Linked DNA regions of Homo sapiens: regions 1, 3 and 4 are each linked to region 2. The links come from fine-mapping of genetic effects on gene expression. A gene starts in region 2. Each other region holds a variant in brackets. All regions are shown on one strand. Distances are from middle to middle. Region 1 overlaps GRIP1 (glutamate receptor interacting protein 1). Region 2 holds the start of GRIP1 (glutamate receptor interacting protein 1). Region 3 has its middle 220 kb from the start of GRIP1. Region 4 overlaps LOC102724421 (a long non-coding RNA gene).

Region 1 (5,156 bases), 290 kb before region 2:
AGCAATACACAAAAAATACACAAATAAATAACCAATACACAATAAATTGATAAATAAACCTGAGTCTACTCTGATAGAATGTGACTTCTGTCCTTTACTCAGTGTCTTCTGGTGGCCCATCAATTCTCAGGCAATCAGAAGGTCTGTTATTTGGTGGCATAGGTGAACTTGTCACAAGGTATTATGACTTGGAAAAATTAATTGCCAGATAAAGCCCCAATTCTACTTAGGTGTTCAAAGTATTTTCCCCACCTAACTCCAGTATCATCTCTAATGAAAGTAACAACTTGACAACTTTGAAATATCATCTCCTTTCATTTTTTTTTCCAGTTTTTTCTCCCTTCCATTTTTGTTTTTTGTTCACCAGAGGACTTAACAGAGAGTGACACAACATAGGCAGGCTGAGAGAAGGAAACTAGGAAAACCAGGAGAGAGCAAACTGGATACAGACACTCCTAAAAAGTACAGTTAACTCAGTGACAAAGCAGCCCTCACACCAATGTGTTCTCTAAACTGTTTATGTGTTTTATTATTTGACTGACTGAAACCCAGAGCAAACAAGGGATTCAGAGGCTGGAATTTACATAGAACATGAGAGAAGGTAAGGCTCAGATGAGGAGAAATACCAAGAAGTTTTGACATACTTCTCTTGTTGATGCTACGGATCACTGGGAAGAAAATATTTTTTAAAAGAAGCTATTAGTTTATGCTCTGTATTCAGTCTGACACCTTTTATGTGTTTATATTCCATGAGTGAGGCTTTTTAATGTAGATAGTATTTCTTCACATGACGATGACACCTATGAAGAAAAATCTACTCTATACTTTCCTATATTGTGATTATAGTGCTCTAATTATAAACATTCAGGGAAAGGGCATGGTGGCTCATGCCTATTATCCTAGCACTTTGGGAGGCCAAGATGGGAGGATTGCTGGAGGCCAGAAGTTTGATACCAGCCTGGAGAACATGACAAGACCCCGTATCTACAAAAATTTAAAAATCAGCTGGGTGTGGTGGTGTGTGCACATAGTCTCAGCTACTGAGGAGACTGAGGCAGCAAGATCCCTTGAGTCCAGGAGTTTGAGACTATAATGAACTATGATGGTGCCAGGGTATTCTAGCTGGGGTGACAGAGTGAGACCCAGTCTCTAAAAGAAAAAAAAAAGTCAGGAGTGTGCAGGAATAAATAGAGTCACAAATCATTGGCTAATCTCTTATGCACCTCTTCCAAACTCCCCAATCCATCTTTGTGGAAAGCTTGCTGAAAAATAAGGCAATGGGGCCTGTATTGAACGAGCCACTTTATTGTATGGTTTGCCTCACATTAATCTAAGCTTGAAGGACAAGCCCTGGATGGGATACTTGGCCATCAGTAGACCTAATGGAGGCCTGTTAGTGTTTGGTAAAGGTTCATGCCTTATAAGCACTAGAAGAAAATGCATGGCCAGCAGAGTGTAAGTATTCAATGTGTTCAATATGATTATGGCTGCACCAAAGCAGACACAAGTTAAAGAAAGATATTCTCCTCATGGAGCAGAGGATGAATCTTGGAGAAGCATGGGCTTCAACAATGACAAGTCCTCTGGGGGACAAAGTAAAGACATACCTTGAGTTCCATAGCTGGTGTCTATTGCAGACCCATCCCATGAATCCACAGCACTGTCCACACTGGGCACCGTGGAGGGGTACATGTCGGAGAGCTTGCCTGGCTTCTGTGCTGGTGAGGAGTCCTCCTCCACATCCCCCAGGTCACTCAAATGGCTAGAAATAGGGAACTTCTTGGGGCTCGATGCTGACTGGGCTTTATAGACAGGAAAGGAGTTTAAGTATCAGAGTAAATTTAAATAAAAATATACCAAGATACTCCGTGGCTAGAGATTTGTTTCCCTAGAATTACACACAGACACTAGCACATTCTTTCAAGGAAGAAAATGCACTGGAAATCCTTAATTGTGGCTTTCAATTCACTACTCACCATCTGTCTGTTTCTTAATTTTCAAGGTGACAGTCTCTCCTGCCATCTGTAACAAATGGATGGCTTCACTCAGAGGCTTCCCTTTCAAGCTGCTGCTATTGATGGCTAGGATTCGGTCTCCTATGTGGATTGCGCCAGTTCTGAAAAGCCAAATAGTAATAGGAGAGGTAGAAATAATCCCTGTATGGTACTGAATATAAATTCCCTGACATACCTTATACATTCATCATAATAAAGACTTGGTAAGGATCTCCAGAAGTCCCTTCTTGCTTTCTCCTGGGCAATGTTATAAGATAACTGCATCTGTTGTGGATTACTTTTTAGTTTCCAATAAAATTTTAAAAATTGTTTTAATTAGTTATTAAAATGAACTGTGTTTTTTAATTCCAAGAAAGCTGAGTCATTGGTTAAGCACCCTAAAAATCCCAAGAAAATGAACAATGTTGAATGACAAATGTAGTGGATAGCATGGAGCATCCTTTCTTTCTACAGATTTTTTTTTTTTTTTTTTTTTTTTTTTGAGACAGAGCCTCACTGTGTCACCCAGGCTGGAGTCCAGTGGCACGATCTTGGCTCACTGCAACCTCCGCATCCCGGGTTCAAGCAATTCTCCAGCCTCAGCCTCCCAA[G/A]TAGCTGGGATTACAGGCAAGCACCACCATCCCCAGCTAATTTTTCTATTTTTAGTAGAGATGAGGTTTCCCCATTGGCCAGGCTGGTCTTGAACTGACCTCGTGATCCATCTACCTCGGCCTCCCAAAGTTCTGGGATTACAGGTGTGAGCCACCGCACCTGGCCTGTATGAGCTAATTTCTAAGGTACACTGCAGCTCCAACATTTTGCAATGCTGTGTCTCTATTTTGCTAGCCACTGTTTTCAACTGTTAGCAGGAACAATGCATTTGTGTATTCCTGAGCTAGGTTACTGGAGGGCAGATTTGCTTATAGGGTTTGTTATATGTCCAACAACACATCTCAGAAAGAAATGCAGTTTAGCGGAGGGTGGGGAGTGGGTGTGTGTGTACATCATTGCCAAAGGAAAAAATGGACATTCCAGCTTTTAAGACATTATTAAAATGGGTTATACACTTTGTTTCCCATAATCCTTGAAGATGATGTCTGTATCATCCTTTTCTGAAAACACAGCAGCTAAGTGTGGCACCTGTCAGGTAACAGAGGCTCAGCAAGTGTTTGCTGAATGAAATTGGACAAGCTGTTCAACCTCCCTGAACTTTAGTTTCCTCCTCTCAAAATGGACACAATACAAATCCGCCTTCAGTCAATTGTGGTCAGCTTATACATTTCAGAGAGTAGTATCAATGCTAAGCCCAAGACGTCTTTTACTGCCTGTAAGATGCCCCTCAGAGTCAAGTCGGAACTCTGCCTGAGAGTTCTCAGGCTCTAAGATCAATCCTTTGTGCAGATTTTTAAAAGCCAACAGATAACCACAGAGAGAGGAGCATGTTTTTATGTGGTTGTGAGGAAGGAAGCCCGTCTCAGACACAGGTAATTATAACAGTTACTTCAAATTTTACCTTTCAGCTAATCCCCCTTTAGTGAGGCTTGAAATGATTATAGGATCAAACGGCTCTTCAGTTCCTGAAATTGTGATGCCAAGGGGCCCCCCGTAGCGTTTAAGCTCCACGGTGTAAATAATTGCTCCGGAACTTTCTTGCTCATCTGTAATAAATGCCAAGGAATCATAATTGATTTCTTTGGAAAAAGCAAAAGAGTAAGATGCATAGATTCATACATAAAAGAATTCAAAACATCCTCGTCAAAGTATCATGTCACAGAAAATAATTATTTTGGGAAGTAGCATTTCCTTAGTAGGATCTTACATTCAAATACAGGGATATAATCATTGTCAGTGCCAGGGGAGAGGAACACTGCCTAATGACTTATGTTTTAAATGTGTGAGATCCGCCCAGCTGGGGCTGCAGGACCTTTCAACTGTGTCCATGTCTAGGACAGTGCTTACCTAGCATTTAGTAAGTATGCAGTAAATATCTGTGAAATAAACATATGGCTGAGGAGGCATTATAATATGAGAGGAGAGAGTCACTCAGTAACAAAGAAGACAGACATTGGGTCACGCTGTTTCCGTTTTAAGCTTTACATGCATGCTAACTTTTGATATAGAAAAGTGGATTTTGCGAAGGGTTGGAACAAATAACATATATATGGTTAAGTGGAACTTAGATAAGTAAACTTGAAGACAACAGCAAGAAATCTAGAATCTCTTAGATATCATTCCACTGACTGTCTTCTAATGTGAGTCCTATCAGTGAATTACGGATATTAAAGTGGAGGTTTGAATGATCATCTCTCCTCTTTCAATGGAGTAACAGCTGTTGTAAGCTATGTTTCAACAGCATAGACCAGCCTGCCACACTGTCATAAACTAATTTTGGCTATTCAACATTATTATAGTTGAAGACACTTGTGAATGTGCTCTGCCTAAAGCACTGGCCAGAAAGATATCATGGGCCGCCTTCAACGTGATGGGTATTGTGATGGTGTCAGAGTTGCAAATAAGAAGTCTCAGAATTCAAAGGTTTTATTTGCTTCTGACATGCTTAAAGTTCTTGGGCACTTCTTGTTTTATTCCTTGGGCCTGGGAGCTGTGAATGGTTAAGGAACTGTTTCATTTCTGCAACTAAGGATAAAATGAAATGGTTCAGTGGCTACTTTAGCAAAATAGTCAGCTTTTACAGTCAGACTACATCCTAGTGAAGCATTAACATGGCCACATTTTTGCAGTGAGCAGCTGTTCGTTTACGATATGAAATCCTAAAATAAGGAGGAAAACCAAAGCTTGAGTTAACAATTCAATTATTTGTGTTTGCAGTGAAGAATTATGATGAATATAAAATGAAAGGTCTATCAAGTCATTTGGGAAGCAATGTGTCCTCTCTCGCCAGCACTTACTTCACTTCTGGCCATAGATTGGGAGTTTTGAATGCAGCCATTACCTCCACTTTCTGAGTGCTCTACTCAACGTATTTACTCCACACATTCAGAACTAAAGACCATCCACCACACACTGCAATGCTTAAGTCAACATTTTAGGGCACAAAATCTTCAACATTGGGCTCAAATTTACATTAGCAGCTGAGAAGCTCCCATATCAAGCCTAAAACAGCTCTGTTTGCTGGTTCACAAGTTTCTTCTGGGCTGATGC
Region 2 (5,156 bases):
ATGACTCAATTCCCAAGTCAGAGAAGTGCTAAGTTTACCTGAAATATATTCTACTATAATACTGTGGATCAGTGTCTATGTGGAGTGATCCAAGGACTTGTCTAGAAATACATGTTTTATACATCTTTTAAAATTACATCTGACCTAAAGAAAAAATATTTATTGTTCAATAATATATTCATTTTAAAAATGCTTTTTACACCTATAAATTGTCCCAGCCCAGAATTCTAAGTGCAAAAATGTCAGTGTCTGGCACATAGTAGGTACTTAATCGATATTTGTTAAGTATGTATTAGATATATGAAGAATGTAAGAATCAAGTAAAAATATCAAGAATGTGGGTGTTTGTAGAAAATTGTTTCCCTTTTATTCCATCATTTTCTCCTTAAGAAAATTAAGAAGAAATTGCAATTGCCATATTGCTTTTTCTTGTGGGTGATATCAACCACAAATAGCAAGGTAGTTTTGGAGTCATGAAGCAAACTTCCCCCTGCTAAGATCTGGGTAAGGTTTTAGCCACAAGAGGCCTAATAAAGCTCTTGAAGCATTTCCTAAGAGCTCACAGAAGATTTAAATGCCCTACTACTTTCAACTAGACAAATCCAATTCATTTTAACAAACAGTTTTGAAGTGCCTACTAAGTGTAATGCCTTGTGCTAAATGTCTGGAAGAGTGAGTGTTAGGTGGAGCCCTCAATGGGTATAAAGAAATATGTATGTTTGGGAGTTGAGGGTGAGGGTGTGGGAGTTGTGTGAGTAGGGAGAATGGGACAAGAAAGAAACTTCAAGTGTATATCCACCCCTGTCCCCAAATACACTCCTGACCCTAAAAGAAAGGTCATTTTAATATTGTAATTACATATGTTTCCTGGTTTTATCATTACAGCTTAAGAAAACAGCACCACAAGTATGGGTGGGGTGCTAGAACTCAATGAATCCACTTTGGAACAAGAAGCATGGGTGGAACTTGAACGTTGTTGGACAAGACTGAAGCAGATGGCAAGGCAAGGTACCGTGTTACTCAGGTGCATTCTTGTAAGTATTTGGACAGCCAGTTAAACACAAAGAAGAACCCAATTATGGCAAATTGATTCTGCAAAGAGATTTTATTTTAATCATCAACTGACAGTCTTAAGTTAAATACCAAATAGAGCAGACATAAAGATTTTGGAAAAAAGTGTGAGGTAGCAACTCCAAAGCAGTTATCAATACTTTCCTCAATTATCTAGATTTTTAGCGACTATCTTAGTAAACACTTAAATCTCCTTTCAATGCAGGAGATCAATGCTTCCATAAAATTCAGAAAACTGAGAAAGTTAAAAATATTTGTAAGAACTATAAATTGCTTGGGTTCACTCTCTTCCTTGTATGTAGTACTTATAAAAGAACTGATACAGATGAATAGAAAATACTGATTGTTTCATGTTTATGATGTAAGAAGACCATCAACTTCTCAACATCAAGATAAGTAAATGCCAAAATCAGGTCAGAAAAGAACTTTTCAGAATAAGGGCCTGCCTTTAAAAGTCTCAGCCAAAACCGTAACAGAAAGGATAGTCTCTTAGTCATGATTTATAAACAGAAATTGTACGTCTGTACCAATTGTAGAGGATAAAGTCAAAACAGAATTTACAGCCTCCTGCTAATAGCCTAATTTAAAATGTATAATCTTCCCTACATTTCCCCCAAAGTACCTTTTAAAGGACTCACTCTGCTATCCAAACAACTTGCAAATGCATTCGGTAAGTTGGTCTACAGTATTTATTCTCTTTCCTGTTATTGACTCAAGATCTATTTCTCATGATTTGCTTTGTGCTCATTCTTCTGCCAGATAAAATATTAATTGCATTTTTAGCTGCACTGCTGGTGATCAAAGAATTCTGATATGTCAAGCTAAACTGACAGAAATAGCATCCATTAACATATTTATAGGTTCAGAGCTTCTAGAACATAATTATATCCATTAATTACTCAACAGTACTCTATATTACAGGCTGAAAAAGAAAGGCATTTGCAACTAAATACTTTTACTCAGAATGAAGTTTTTTTTTAAATAATAAATTTTCTCTAAGGAAGGTTCTATCTAAAGGAAATAAGGCAAGAGAGCTCACATATCTATATGGACACAAGGCAGGATTTTTAAGGCATCCATTTACTAACTTTGCAATAGAATGCTCACAAAGTAAACGAGATGGCACATCCAGAATGGTTTCAAATAAAATAATACCTTAAATATTACAGAGAAATTTAATTACTATTTTAGAGTTCTAAGAGTGACAATCTGAAGCTGGTAATTCTTGATGATAAGATTCCGAGCAATGATTTTTACTTTCAAATAAACTTCTAGTATTACATAGGACCAAAGCATTTGGAATTACATACTTTTCTGAACATGCAATTCTAACACATAAAGAAATTAAAGCTGTCCAGGGAAAAAGCTCTTAAGATGTTGGAAAGTCATAGAACAAACAATTATTCTGTGGATCCACCAGCTGTGCGAGTCCTGAATCTGCCAGCTGCATTTAGTATATGTATCATAGAAAGGACAGTAACACACACTTGACTCCTTTTGGCCAGTTAATCAGCATGCAAAATGACGGTTTCCCACAATAACTTCAGCACCGGACCCAAACACATTCTCTTTTCAGCAAAGAATGAAGTCATTAAAAAAAAAATCACACAAGCTGCTTTCATAATTTCAGCACGAACACAACCGAGATGTAAGGACAGAAAGCAAAGCCGAGTCTACCTGTACATATGTATCTATACATATTTCACTGAGTTCTTTGTTGCCTGACAATAAATTGCAAAGGCAGTCATATTTGAAAGTAAAAACCATTAAACTGTGTTTATAGGATACTGCAACAGACTCGCTGAGGGAATAACAAGGAAAGCACGATACCTTTAGTAAGTCGCCTCAGAATTTGACAACGGCATTTAAAAGAGACAGCTATCATTCTTGCTCACTGCTTTCTGTGGCAAAGTGTACTCAAGGCTCTCTGCTCTGGTGGCTGCAGCAGCAGCAGCATATGAATTCCTTGCGCACATACCAGGAGAAAGGTAGTCCCAGTGGGGAGTGACAAAGCTTAATTCCTCTTGGCTGATGCAGAGGTCCGCTACATGTCATCTGGCAAATCTGTGTCATTCACTACTACTACCACCCCTGCCTGCCACAGCCTCCTCCCCCTTCACAATCACAATGGCTTAGAAAGTAATGCCGTTTCGATAGCAACAAAGCACCAAATTGTACAAAGCAGGGACGACACTGTGTGAGGAGCCATTCCATAAATCTAACGCTAAGCACTGAACAGTGCATTCTGTTTAAGGCAAAAGGCGATGTATCCAGTCAGTTCAGCCACCATCAGCCCCTTTCCTTCTCAGCATCAAGTCAGTGTCCTTTATATGTCTCATTTAATGGGAAATGCAAGTGAAATGCTTACACTCTTACTTTAGGAAGAAATGCATGGGTCATGTACTATGTTCTTTAAACAACAACCAAAAAAAAAAAAAAAAAAAAGGAAAGAAAAAGAGGGAGGGCCGTTTATATTTGGGATTGAGGAAAGAATCACAGTTCTGCCTATAGCGGGGAAGCAGCTCTAGGACAGAGACCTCTTTGGTACTTCCTGAACCTATGAGAGTTAAGGCAGTGTCTGTTTATAGAGGGAATACAAGAAAGGGTTAGGGCTAGGCAGACAATCAGGCAGATGGAGTCCCAGCCCCTTTAATCACCCTTCCAAAAAAGGACTTGGCTGGAAAGCAACACAGTCAAGACTGTTTCTAAAGATACCAGAAATAAAGGCAAACAAGGCCAAGTATTTCTATTTTTAATATACTTTATTATACTATTTCCCAAACAACCATCCCCCAAACCATTCTTCTCATTATGCAAATAAAACGGTCTTGCGACATAGCAGATATTTGTGAGTATCTGCTCCAATGGAGTGAAGAGCAAATTAACAAACCCTTCACAATCCATTCACAAAGTGATAAGAAGGCGGAGCACACCTCCTCATCTGCCAGCAGCAGCCTGCTCGCCATATAGTCAATACGAACTAACATTTGGTAGGGAATTTTAATCAAAATCCAGAATTCTCCCACAGGAGTTAACATAAACATTCAGGACAAAAAATTAGACAGTTGGCCAGGAAGTTTAAGAAAAAAAAAATCAATTAGTCAAAATGAAAAGATATATCACTGTCTAAACTACTTGATTAATATTTCTAGGACTTTATGAATTATTCATACAGTTTTATTCTCTACTCTTCAGGCTGTGAAAAAACTTTCAAGCTGGTTTTTAAAATAACTTCCAACATTCCAAATTTAGTGGTAAAACTTTCTTTTCTTCATTCATAAATTCAATATGAACTCAAACAATTTCAATCCACTGCTATTGAAATGCATATGCTTTGTATTTTGAGTCCAATAGAAAAATAATTTGTGTGTGAAAAACATCTGAATATCATAAGCATCTACTTTAAAGGTTTTTGAAAAGAACAGAATTCTTTTACCAAGGATGGTCTAGCTAAAGCAACCACTAATCAATAGAAAATACTATATTAAATGGACTGCAGTGCAAAATCAAATTTTTATAATTGTTCTGATTAGCATAAATCTTTCTTTGAATTTCAACCCATATTATGTTCATCTCTATTAGGTTATCCCTAGAAATAGTTTAGCCTCCTTGATATTTTTTTGCTTTAAATAGAAATATACCTTAGTACTAGAGAACTGAGTTACTAGCTAAAGTGAGATAAATACTTACAGTTAGCTCTTTCCAAGATTCTTCTCCAAATCTAACATATTTCCTAAAATCCAGGCACTCAGAATACGCAGCTGTCAATTACTATTAGTAGAATCTTGCCTGTGGAACACCACCACCCCAGCCCAGTCTATTCAAATACAACTCAAAACCATACAGGAATCTCTTGCCTTCTGCTATTTTGCAGACTCAAATCCAATTTGCTTTTTCCTTATGACTAAAATGATCAAATATTTTCCCCTTTTCCTAATATGCTTATTTTTTTTGTTTTGTTTTAAAAGCTCTATCCTCTGGTCCCAAGAAAGGTCTTCAGAACTACTAAAATGTCCTATTTCTTTGGCAGGGGAAATAACCCATCATGGAGCTCTTTGAAAGGTTTCTGAGAGCCCAAACTAGGG
Region 3 (5,156 bases), 220 kb after region 2:
CCAGCATGTGTGTCTTGTCTCTTTCTGGAGGCCCCATTCTCTTCTTAGATTCTGAGTCAGTTGGTTGTCCTACAACCAAGGTCCTCTATGAGTTCCAGACAATTCATAACTTATAGTTTGATACACTTTTTAATTTTTGCATTATAAGAATAGAAACAATGCTCCTTCTAGCTGCCTATGCCCCAGGAGGAAAGCCAGGGTCTTCTGTATCCCAGTGTGTGCTGAATGATGTTCTATGATCACTGGCCCTGACACATTTCCCTGACTTTGCCTTCCAAGGTCCTCATATGCCCAGGACTGCCAAGGCTCCTGAGCTAATCATGAAAATGGCAAGAATTAGATCAGAAGACACAAACTGCCTCCCATACACAGACTTAGGAATTAAATTGTGCTGTCAATCAGACCCTGCAAGGGACAAGCAGTAGAGGTCCCTCAGGCCTTCCAATGGCAACTTTTCCAGTTACTGTGTTGAAACATTTTTTTCCATAATCTTTGTGGACATGCTGACCAATAACTTTGACTCCTTGTAGGACTAGAACCCTAGCCAAAGACCCATCTAAGCCCCTCTCTCAGGGTCTTGCTGCCATCCTCCGGTCAGTGGTTGCCATGCTGCTGTGAAGAAGCAGGTGCCTCTGCTGTGGATTAGCTATGCCTGACTTTGCACTCTGTGCTCCACCTGGAACCCCCAATGTGCCAGATTGTCAGCCTCTGGTACCATGTGCCAGATTGTCAGCCTCTGTTACCATGAACTGCCTTCACCACACCCATTCTTGGGATAGGTCTGTGGATTGTTCAGATGCCCTTTGATATGGTTTGGCTGTGTCCCCACCCAAATCTCATCTTGAATTGTAGCTCCTATAATCCCCACATGTCATGGGAAGGACCTGGTGGGAGGTAATTGAATCAAGGGGGTGGGTTTTTCCCATGCTGTTCTCATGATAGTGAATAAGTCTCACAATATCTGATGGTTTCATAAAGGGCAGTTCCCCTACACACGTTCTCTTGCCTGCTGCCATGTAAGATATGCCTTTGCTCCTCCTTTGCCTTCCACCATGATTGTGAGGCCTCCCAGCCACGTGAAACTGTCAGTCCACTAAATCTCTTTTTCTTTATAAATTACCCAGCCTCAGGTATCTCTTGTAGCAGTGTGAGAACAGACTAATGCACCCTTATAGTAGTCAACTGTCACAGCCTCACTTGGTCTGGATCCATTCTCTCCCCTTGTTTCTACCTGAGCCCTGTACTGAGGTATGGGTAATGTTCTCTACTGGGCACCATTAACAAGCAGAAATGAGATTTGATTAGCAACCACTGCCTTATTCAAGAATTTCTCCCCAAAGGTAAAGCTGGCCGCAGACCCACCACTACCTCCTGCAGTTAATGTAACCAGTGGTACTGGTTTACTTTCATATTAATGTTCATTTACCAGAAGATGAGGAAGTTATATACACTCCATAGTACACTGTGTTTCTTATCATATTTTTAAAAGCAACACTAATACATTTTTGTTACTAGTTTAGCCTAAATAATAAATGTGTTTAAAACTCAAAATGACTATGGCCACTTCTTATATCAGAGGGGAAAGTTAAAATTCCTGTCATTGAGAAAAAAGTCACTGCCAGTTCTGCTATACTGGTAAAGAATCAATGGTCATTTTGTTTAGCAAGATATTAACAAATTTTTAGACAAAGGCAGGCATGAAGTCAAATAAGGAGTTGCCAGCTAGACAACTGTGCATAAAATGCGAGAAAAACTGTATTTAAAGTATAGCTAGAACTGGAGCAGGATGAAGCTGCAAGAGACTGGAGCTTGCTACAAGGGTGACCTAAGAGAATTCTGTGATGGGATGACTGGAGGACATTTAGAAACAGAAAATTCTAAATTCAGTTTGAGGTTGTGTTGTGGTGATGGAACTGCTAACTGATCCCTGTTGCCCCAAACATTCAATAAAGTCTGTTATACCTAAAAATGCCTTGTGTGTGTGCAATCCACAGGGAAGTCTAGGAGGAGAAGGAAGCCAGGTATGGGTCACTATGGAGCATAGGGAAGCAGATGGCAAGGGAGATCAACACTTCAATGGGAACTGAAAGTCAAAGTCAGAGTGACTGTGAGAATATTACCTCTGAGGAATTTGAAAAAAAAAAAAAAAACTTTGGTGGGCCTGAATGCCCCATTGGATGTAGAAAAGAGGGTTTTTGTCAGTGTTTTGTGAATCCAGTCAAGAAGGGCTTCTAAGGTGTCATCTGTGATATGCTTTTGCATATGAATGGCTACCCCTTCCAGAGATGTGGTTGTGGTATAAGTTAATGTCATGGTGACATAAAGAAAGATGTGAAGGGGTTAAAATACTGCTGCAAAGAACAGCTCTGGCAGACTGAAGAATAAGTCAGGAAGCTGTTTTTAGAATCAAGAGAGTTCTAAGTTAACCAGCCATAATAAATTCTGTATTCGAAGTTAAGTGTCACGAAACAAGAATTAAGAAGATAGCTTGGCAGTTTTCTGGTTCCAAGATTTCAAAAACATTCCCATGATAAAGGAACAAATAATTAGAATGTGTCAAGGCATTTTCCAGACACTCTTCCGAAGACCTGTTCCGAAGGCAACACGAAGCTGCTCTGAGAGGCAGTGTCACACAGTGGTTACACGTGCAGGCTCGGGAGCCAGTTTGCCTGAGTCCAAGTGCTAGCTCAGCTGTTTGCCAGCTGCGTGCTCCTGGG[T/C]ATGTTGCTTATATTTGCTGTGATTCCATTTTCTTATCTATAAAATGTGAACAATAATAAACAGTTAGAAATTCACAGTGTTGTCGGGAAGATGGCATGAATCAATGCATGGGAAGCACTTAGATGGGCACCCACCACCCAGGAGGCACTCGGTATGTGTCAATGCTCTTTTCATGAAAGAGCTATAAGCGCTCACTGAAAGTGCCCTAAAGCCCTGCCCCAAGAGCTAAGAATCACACTCCCCTACTTAGGGAGAAAGCTTAAGGTCACAGTTTTGGAGTCTTCCATGGAGGTGAGAATCAAGACAGAGCAACTTTCAGAGTTTCTGCCTCCTTATTAGCCTCTGAAAATACAGAAAACTCCACTAGTTTAACAACTGCACATGCTATAATACCATTTAGGTCAGAAAAATACAATGTTCCCTTAATTAAGACCCAGAGGTTACAGCTGAGGAAGGCAATCAGCCGCTTCAGAACATATGCTTCAAAGACCAACCTACAAATGCATGGGAGGCAGTCATGATGGTGGCGGATGAGCTAAACAGACAAGGGTTTTCTCTAAATAGAGATTTTCACAAACAGTTGATGAAATGGCAGTACACCAGGTAACAGATCCAATTATGGCAAAACAGGGGAAATTAACGCTATGCCTCAGGCATACCGTGTTTAGACCAGTGATTTCTTTTTGTGAATTCTAATATGTATTTTTTACTGTGATTTTGAAATACCTTTCTAATGTTTCCTTGTTCAAGATGTAAGTGTGAATCCAAACACATGCATACACACCAGTTATGGCTTTGTAAAACCAAGTAATAATAATCCGCCACAAATTGCTAGGATCCATTTTTCAATAAAAAATAAAAGCCAAATCCTCGCAAAACAAAGAAAAATAATCAGTACTGACAAGAATACATTGCCTAACCTGTGTACTGTAAAATCTCAAGCAACAGTACAGTAGTTAAAGGGGAAAATAATGTTTATTTATCACCTTTATCACCTAAATGCGTGTCCAAATACTATGTTCCACATTCCCCAAAAAATCTACAAAGTGGAGGAATTTTTAAGATCCTTTTATTTATGTTAGCCGAGGCAAGAACTGAGATTCAAAAGCAGTTCTGTCTGAGTTCAAAGCCTGTGTTGTGCCCACTACACTAATATCCCGAGACACAGAGTCCTTAGCCTTCCTCAGGAACTGGTTATAGCTTATGGCATTTTTTTCTTTAATGATGCTCACTCCTAAGAAATGTTTCCTAATATTTAATCTAAATCCCTCTCTTCTCTTCCAGTTTAAACAATTCCTTTTATTTGTGTCCTCGATGGGGAGAGAGAACATTGGTCAGTGTCCTCCTTAATAACAGCTCTTTAACAGTTATTAAATTGCTTCTACTCCAGGCTAAATGCATCCAACTCCTTTAACCTTTTGTTAAAGGGCCAATTTTCTAACCTATTGATAATTGCATTTGCTCTTCTCTGGACCTTTTCCAAGCTCTGGATGCTGCCCTCAAAATTCATATATATACACTCCTCTTATCATGAAGAGCCTATGCCAAGTAAAGCTAAAATAATCCTTCCCAGTTCTTTCATAAGAGAAAGAGATTCTTAATTTTAATAAAAGCTTTATTTTGTTAGGATATTCGTTAGCAATTTACAATCCCTTATCGTTACAGATTTCTTTTTATGACACTCTTTCCTAGTCCAGCTTGTGCCCAATGTAGTGTGTTTATTAGCAACAATTACAATAACTACCTTGAAATTACTCTCTAAAAACATGCCAAGTGCTTTGATGCCTAGAGGGATAGCAGCCTGTGCTGACAGGGATTGAGTTGTTGAACAGGAAAGTTTATGTAAGGCCTCAACACCAAGGATCCTGGCAGTAGCAAGAAGAAACAGAGCATTATGACAGAGCATGCATGTGACAGCATCAGTATCTTCTTACAGCAGGGGCATGTAGCACAGAAAGGGATCAGGTTGTCTTGTTTTTCTGGTGTTGTATCCCTAGCGCTTCTCTTTGCATTTCTGCCTGGGTAACTCACTCTAATTTCTCAATTTATGTCCATATTGCTTCTTGGATCACTCTTTTAATTCACCCCAGACTGAACTTGATCTCTATCTTCTTTGACATTAGCAGTCCCATAGAAAGTTGCAGGAAGGCAAGTAAGAGTACCCAGGTCCAATAAAGGCTTAAAGGGAGCTCTCTCATTCACTAGTCAATGAAACACTCATTCAGTGAAATGCTGCTGTCAGGACAGAATGTACTTCCTGTAGACATCATTGGAAAGAAACTGTTCCTGTCCCATGTGAAAAAAAATTTTTTTTTTTGAGTCAGGGTCCTGCTCTGTCACCCAGGCAGGAATGCAGTGGCACGATCATAGCTCAGTACATTCTCAAACTCCTGAACTCAAGTGATCCCCCACCTCAGCCTCCTGAGTAGCTAGGATTA
Region 4 (5,156 bases), 400 kb after region 2:
TTGTTGGGTGGGTTAGATGAGTTAGTGCATGCAAGCATTTAGACCCAAGTCTGATGCATAAAGAGAATCCAATAAATTTGACATATTATTATAGGGCCAGGTATGTGCCTTACATACCTTGGTATTATCACAGGCATTAAGCATTGCACCTTATAAATAGTGTGAGCCCAGTGGATGCTTGCTGAAAGGATGAATATTAAAAATAGTTTTAATTTCCTACACAAACCTCCTGTGATCAGAAAGACTTGGCCCATAAATATACTAGAGATAGAAATCTTGCTTATTACAAGGTCTGACAATATTTCTAAAAGGAACCTTTTAGGTCAGAATGGAGAGCAATGACTTCATTATCCCGAACAAGAGAAAAATGACTAATTGAATAGAAGACTAGACATAAATAAGCATTTCATCAGGAAAATTAAATAGAAGGTTCCTACCTTCATGACAAAAACCTGCTAATAATAAATTCAGGTTTAGTCCCTTGAGTATCTAAAAAAATTAGAGCAATGAAGTGATTAAGAAAACTGATTTCAGAGGAAAATTAAGGTGGCTGGTTATATCTAGTATAGATTGGGGAAGCAATGACTAAGAGCTTTCTTGGTGGAAATTCATAGGATCATTAAAGGAGTAAATACCAAACAGGAAAAGGAATTATTTATCATGTTGGAGGTGATAAATAAAAGTAAAGGAATAAATGAAAGGAAAGTGTAAGCTCGTCAAGAAGCAACATTTAATTTGTATATAGGCTGAGGAGTAGTGAAAACTACTGGTTAGAAAATATTGTGTGCATACATCTTCTACTGGTTATTGATTGATTCAATCATTTTAGGAAGCAATCTGGCAATATATAGAAACTGCAAACCACATATCATTTTACCTAGGCTGAGCCAGGCGGATCACGACATCAGGAGATCGAGACCATCCTGGCCAACGTGATGAAGCCCTGTCCCTACTAAAAATACAAAAAATTAGCTGGGCATGGTGGTGCACACCTGTAGTCCCAGCCACTTGGGAGTCTGAGGCAGGAGAATCGCTTGAACCCAGGAGGTGGAGGTTGCAGTGAGACGAGATCACACCACTGCACTCCAGCCTAGTGACAGAGCGAGACTCCATCTCAAAAAAAAAAAAAAAAGAAAGAAAGAAATAATCAAAGATGTGACCAAAGGTTTATGCTTGAATATGTTTATCATACCTTTATTTATAACAGCAAAAAGTTGGAAAGGTTCTAAATGTTCAATAATAGAGGTTTGCTTAAATAAGTTAAATTGACTATTGTAGAGCCTTTAAACATCATAATTTAAAAGATAGTAGTAAATTCTCATGTTATAACATTTAGCACAAAAAAGGGTTACATATACCATACTTCACAGATTCTAAGAGGCATAGTTTTAATATTTTTACATATCTAAAATCTGAATATTTCTTGTCATTTCATGGCATGTCCAAGTGTATTAAGACTTGCAGGTGGGGTGAGGTCAGCTTGAAGCCAAGTTCTAGAAACAATAACAGAACACTCTTTCAAGAAATGCTGTCTTGCCAATACCCTAGTTGAAACAGAAGATATTGTGTGGAAAACCACAAACATTGAAAAGTCTGAATCATAGAGTGAATCATAAGACTTAAAGTTTAAACATGAAAAAGTTTTAGTAATACCTAGACAATTAGTTTCACTTATTTTTTATTATGTAAGTAAAGATATTTGATAAAACCTATGTCTAAAGGATTTCTTTCAACAAGTATAAAATAATAATTCTTAGTCGTTAAGCATTGTGTCATAGTACTAGCATAATTTTTGTTTATTTTGTAGTAGTGCATAAAGTATTGATGGATGTTAATAAAGATGACCTCCTAGATTAACGAAAACCAATATGTATATATAGTATGAACCAAACTTTTCTTAGAAGGGAAGAGATGCATCAAAATGTATCCTGTCTATTAACATTATCTGTGAGTTTTATTCTCCTCTTTTTATACACTTTAATATTTTTCTTAAAAAGCAATATTACATTTCAATACAAAAATTTTAGTAAATATTGTTTTTAAAAACAATAGAGAAAAAAACGTAGACTAAGGTTTTTCTAGACTACTCTAGAATTGGTATATCTATCAGCCATTCTGTAGTAAATAGGCTAAGAAATTGAAGTAGAGAAGTTTGAGTTCATTCTTGCTTCTGTCAATGTAACCATTTACAAATGATGTGGTTTTCTAAAATTTTCCTTTGCCCCTGTGTAAGAAATACACAATAATGTTCACCAGCCTATTTCAAAGTAACAGTGACTGAACATCTGGAATGAAACAAATAGATTATATCATAATTGCAGGGCATCTCAGTAAAGAGTATGAACACAAGCATTTTGTAAAGACAAATCTATTTTCCCTTTAACTTATCACTAAGTAACATTCATCTCCACACTGGTTATGGGGCCAGACCATCCAATCTATTGAAATCCCCAGGAACATCAACCTCAGATCAGTTTGTCTGATGTACCAAACGATTTTTTTAATACCCCTTAGGGATTTGTAAGCTTATTTATTTTTACAACCTGCAAACTTCAGTCTCGGCAATGAACATAAAGTGCCTGACACATATGTATTATGCATGTATGAGCATTTGTTTATATTATCTTTGACTTTTTAAAATCTGTTCAATGAGCCTTTTTATTCCATACTTGTTATATACGATGTTTCATTAAGATCCATGAAAAGAGTCTCTCCTAGTTTA[T/C]ATTTATATTATTTAAGCACTACAAGTGATATTTGCTACTGGTTATGTAAATGGAAAATAACTTATGAGATTTATGATGTTATTTTCTTTCCTGCACTTGGTGACTGGGTTGCCTCTTGGTTTTTATTTATGTCATGAATGATAATCAGCTCCTTCTGTTTGCCCACCCGCACAGTTGCCTGAGCTTTAGGTGTGGCTGGAAATGATGGTGGGGGAGGAATAACTGCACTCAGTTCAAATGATAATAGCCCGCTCCTTCTATTACAGCAACCGTGAGGCAGATCAGCTTCCAAGAAAGAATGCCAACCTGCTTTCTGTAGGTGAAGAAGTCCCAGGGCTTGACTCAGAAGGTCCTCTAGCACCGCACTTTGCAGTCAGTCCTGTGGAAGATGCAAAAAGACCTATCCTATGGAAATGCCTATAAATGATTAACAGGTAGACAAAGGAATTAACTCAAAATTGTAAGAAAGAGTAGATTAGATGAGCACCAAGAAATGTGACTGTCTACAGCCACCTTGAAATCTAACAGGAAACAGGCCAAATGGCAAATTAGACTGTTTAATGGTTGTGTGTGAAAGTGCCTCCTCCTCATAAAGGAACTGTAACAGATCCACTCTTGTGCAAAGAGAATGTTATAAACAAGATAATGAAGCTTCGAGATAGCTTCCCTAAATTCACTAAGTCATTAAGTAAATTTTACATTATAATCTAAGTGAAAAAAATAAACAAACCAGAAAAATCAAAAACAAACCAAAAATAGACCAGAAAAGCCTGAACAGGTCCTAAATGAAATGCCATGAAGGTCTCCTCTCAGAATCACTGTGGATTCTCTCATGCTCCGGATGAAGCAGATTGTATCAAGCAACAACATCACTGAACTTTTATTGAAAGTGCAATCCATATTCTACAAATGAAACTTAGAGTTTCCTATCTGTCTGCAATTTAGTTCTATTTTTAACTCATTTCACAGCTCAATTAATATTCCAGTGTTTTATTCTTCTTCACATATTCAGAGCAGCCTGAAATAAACTTTACTTTGAAGCTACTTCCAGCCTTTGCAAATCCTTACCCTTCTCAGAACCTTCTTTTCCATCACTGCTATTTGTTCTTTCTCCCTGGAGACTTCCTTGTTGTCACTTCAAGATACAGACCTTGCCACCTGCTTTCCACCATTCCAAACTGCACCTGTCCCAATTGTAATCTCTGCTTTCTAAGTGCAAGTTAAGTAATCCAATACATTAATGTGTGCTAATGTATTATTGGTCATTATTGTGCAAATGAAAGCATGTTAATTTCCTATCCTCTTTTCCCTTCTGGGAATTTTTACTATTTTACTATGGCCTTTTGAAAAATGGCTCATTTCAAAGAGGTGGTATTGGCAGTGGGAATTTTTAGGTATCAGACCTATGGAGGGAAGTAGGACAATCATGTGTGTGTGTGTGTTTCCTCAAATCACAACATGGAGGAATGGCATCACGTGGGTAGTAGCTGATGCATTTCACTGTTACATTATGGATAATTCTGCAACAGTTCTGTTCAGAGCTGCTGTAGACTCAGCATTAGGTTAAACTCTAGAAATATGCCATGTAAAGTGACTTGCATTTTCATGTCTATTATAAAGGTTAAAACATTTGAACTTTCTGTTTAATTGGTATATATTTAAACTTCTCTTGCAATGGTCAAAGAAAGACTTTTTGGCATTAAACTGCTGCTGTGTAGAGCCTAAATGTCTGAAAAATTCATTAAAATAGCACTTTAATTTTGACAGAGTTGAACTGCTGGGAAAATTAATTGATTGTTTCTCACTTGAGCTTTGGAGAAGTCATTAAGGTTTTTATGGTTTATGGAAAATTGAGAATTGAAGTACACTAAAATCAATATGTTATCTGATGTACAGAGAAAATGGCACTTGAGATGAAAGAAAGCATAAACAATTCCTAAGAGCTTTTTCTTTCTTTCTCTTGATTCCACAGGCATATTTGCATAGAGCTTCTATATTTACTTGTATTCAAAGTCCTTTGTCAGTCGTTTTTATTGTGATGCACATTATGGGGACAGAATAATGAGGTCAGAGAGATGAACCACTGCATTTTAGAAACTTTTCTGTTAATTTCAAAAAAAAAAGTATTAAGAACATAATATAAAATACCAGAAATAGTCTGGGCATGGTGGCTCACACCTGTAATCCCAGCACTTTGGGAGGCTGAGGTGAGCAGATCACTTGAGCCCAGGAGTTCAAGACCGGTCTGGGTAATACAGCAAGACCCTGTCTCTATTAAAAAAAATACTAAAATACCAGAAATATTCAGATAGGTCTGTATATTTTGAAACAACCCTTAACAAGAAAGTTGTAATTAGGCTAACATGTTAGGAGCAAGGAGAAATACTTCGAGGTTTCTATATATATTGGGCTTATATGCATTATGGAAAAAAT

What was found. PIP is the estimated chance that this variant, and not a neighbour inherited with it, causes the effect.
Region 1: its variant is the best candidate, but not a certain one, in a credible set for the expression of GRIP1 in whole blood (TOPMed, PIP 0.72).
Region 3: its variant is the best candidate, but not a certain one, in a credible set for the expression of GRIP1 in sun-exposed skin (GTEx, PIP 0.65).
Region 4: its variant is the best candidate, but not a certain one, in a credible set for the expression of GRIP1 in esophagus mucosa (GTEx, PIP 0.58).

Annotation. Positions count from the first base shown.
Region 1 is chr12:66,390,701-66,395,856 of GRCh38, forward strand. It overlaps GRIP1 (glutamate receptor interacting protein 1), which reads right to left. Exons shown (of 25, transcript NM_001366722.1): 17 at 3,508-3,652; 18 at 1,977-2,116; 19 at 1,608-1,802. Among named protein-coding and RNA genes, the nearest start is that of HELB, 91 kb to the left of the region's middle. The variant G/A (reference allele first, on the strand shown) is at 2,606.
Region 2 is chr12:66,675,949-66,681,104 of GRCh38, forward strand. GRIP1 (glutamate receptor interacting protein 1) reads right to left here and starts at 3,128. Exons shown (of 25, transcript NM_001366722.1): 1 at 2,902-3,128. The coding sequence starts at 2,956.
Region 3 is chr12:66,894,347-66,899,502 of GRCh38, forward strand. It overlaps a transcript of GRIP1 not described here. Among named protein-coding and RNA genes, the nearest start is that of GRIP1, 220 kb to the left of the region's middle. The variant T/C (reference allele first, on the strand shown) is at 2,718.
Region 4 is chr12:67,076,252-67,081,407 of GRCh38, forward strand. LOC102724421 (a long non-coding RNA gene) reads right to left here. Exons shown (of 4, transcript NR_120490.1): 4 at 1,375-1,493. Among named protein-coding and RNA genes, the nearest start is that of CAND1, 190 kb to the right of the region's middle. The variant T/C (reference allele first, on the strand shown) is at 2,723.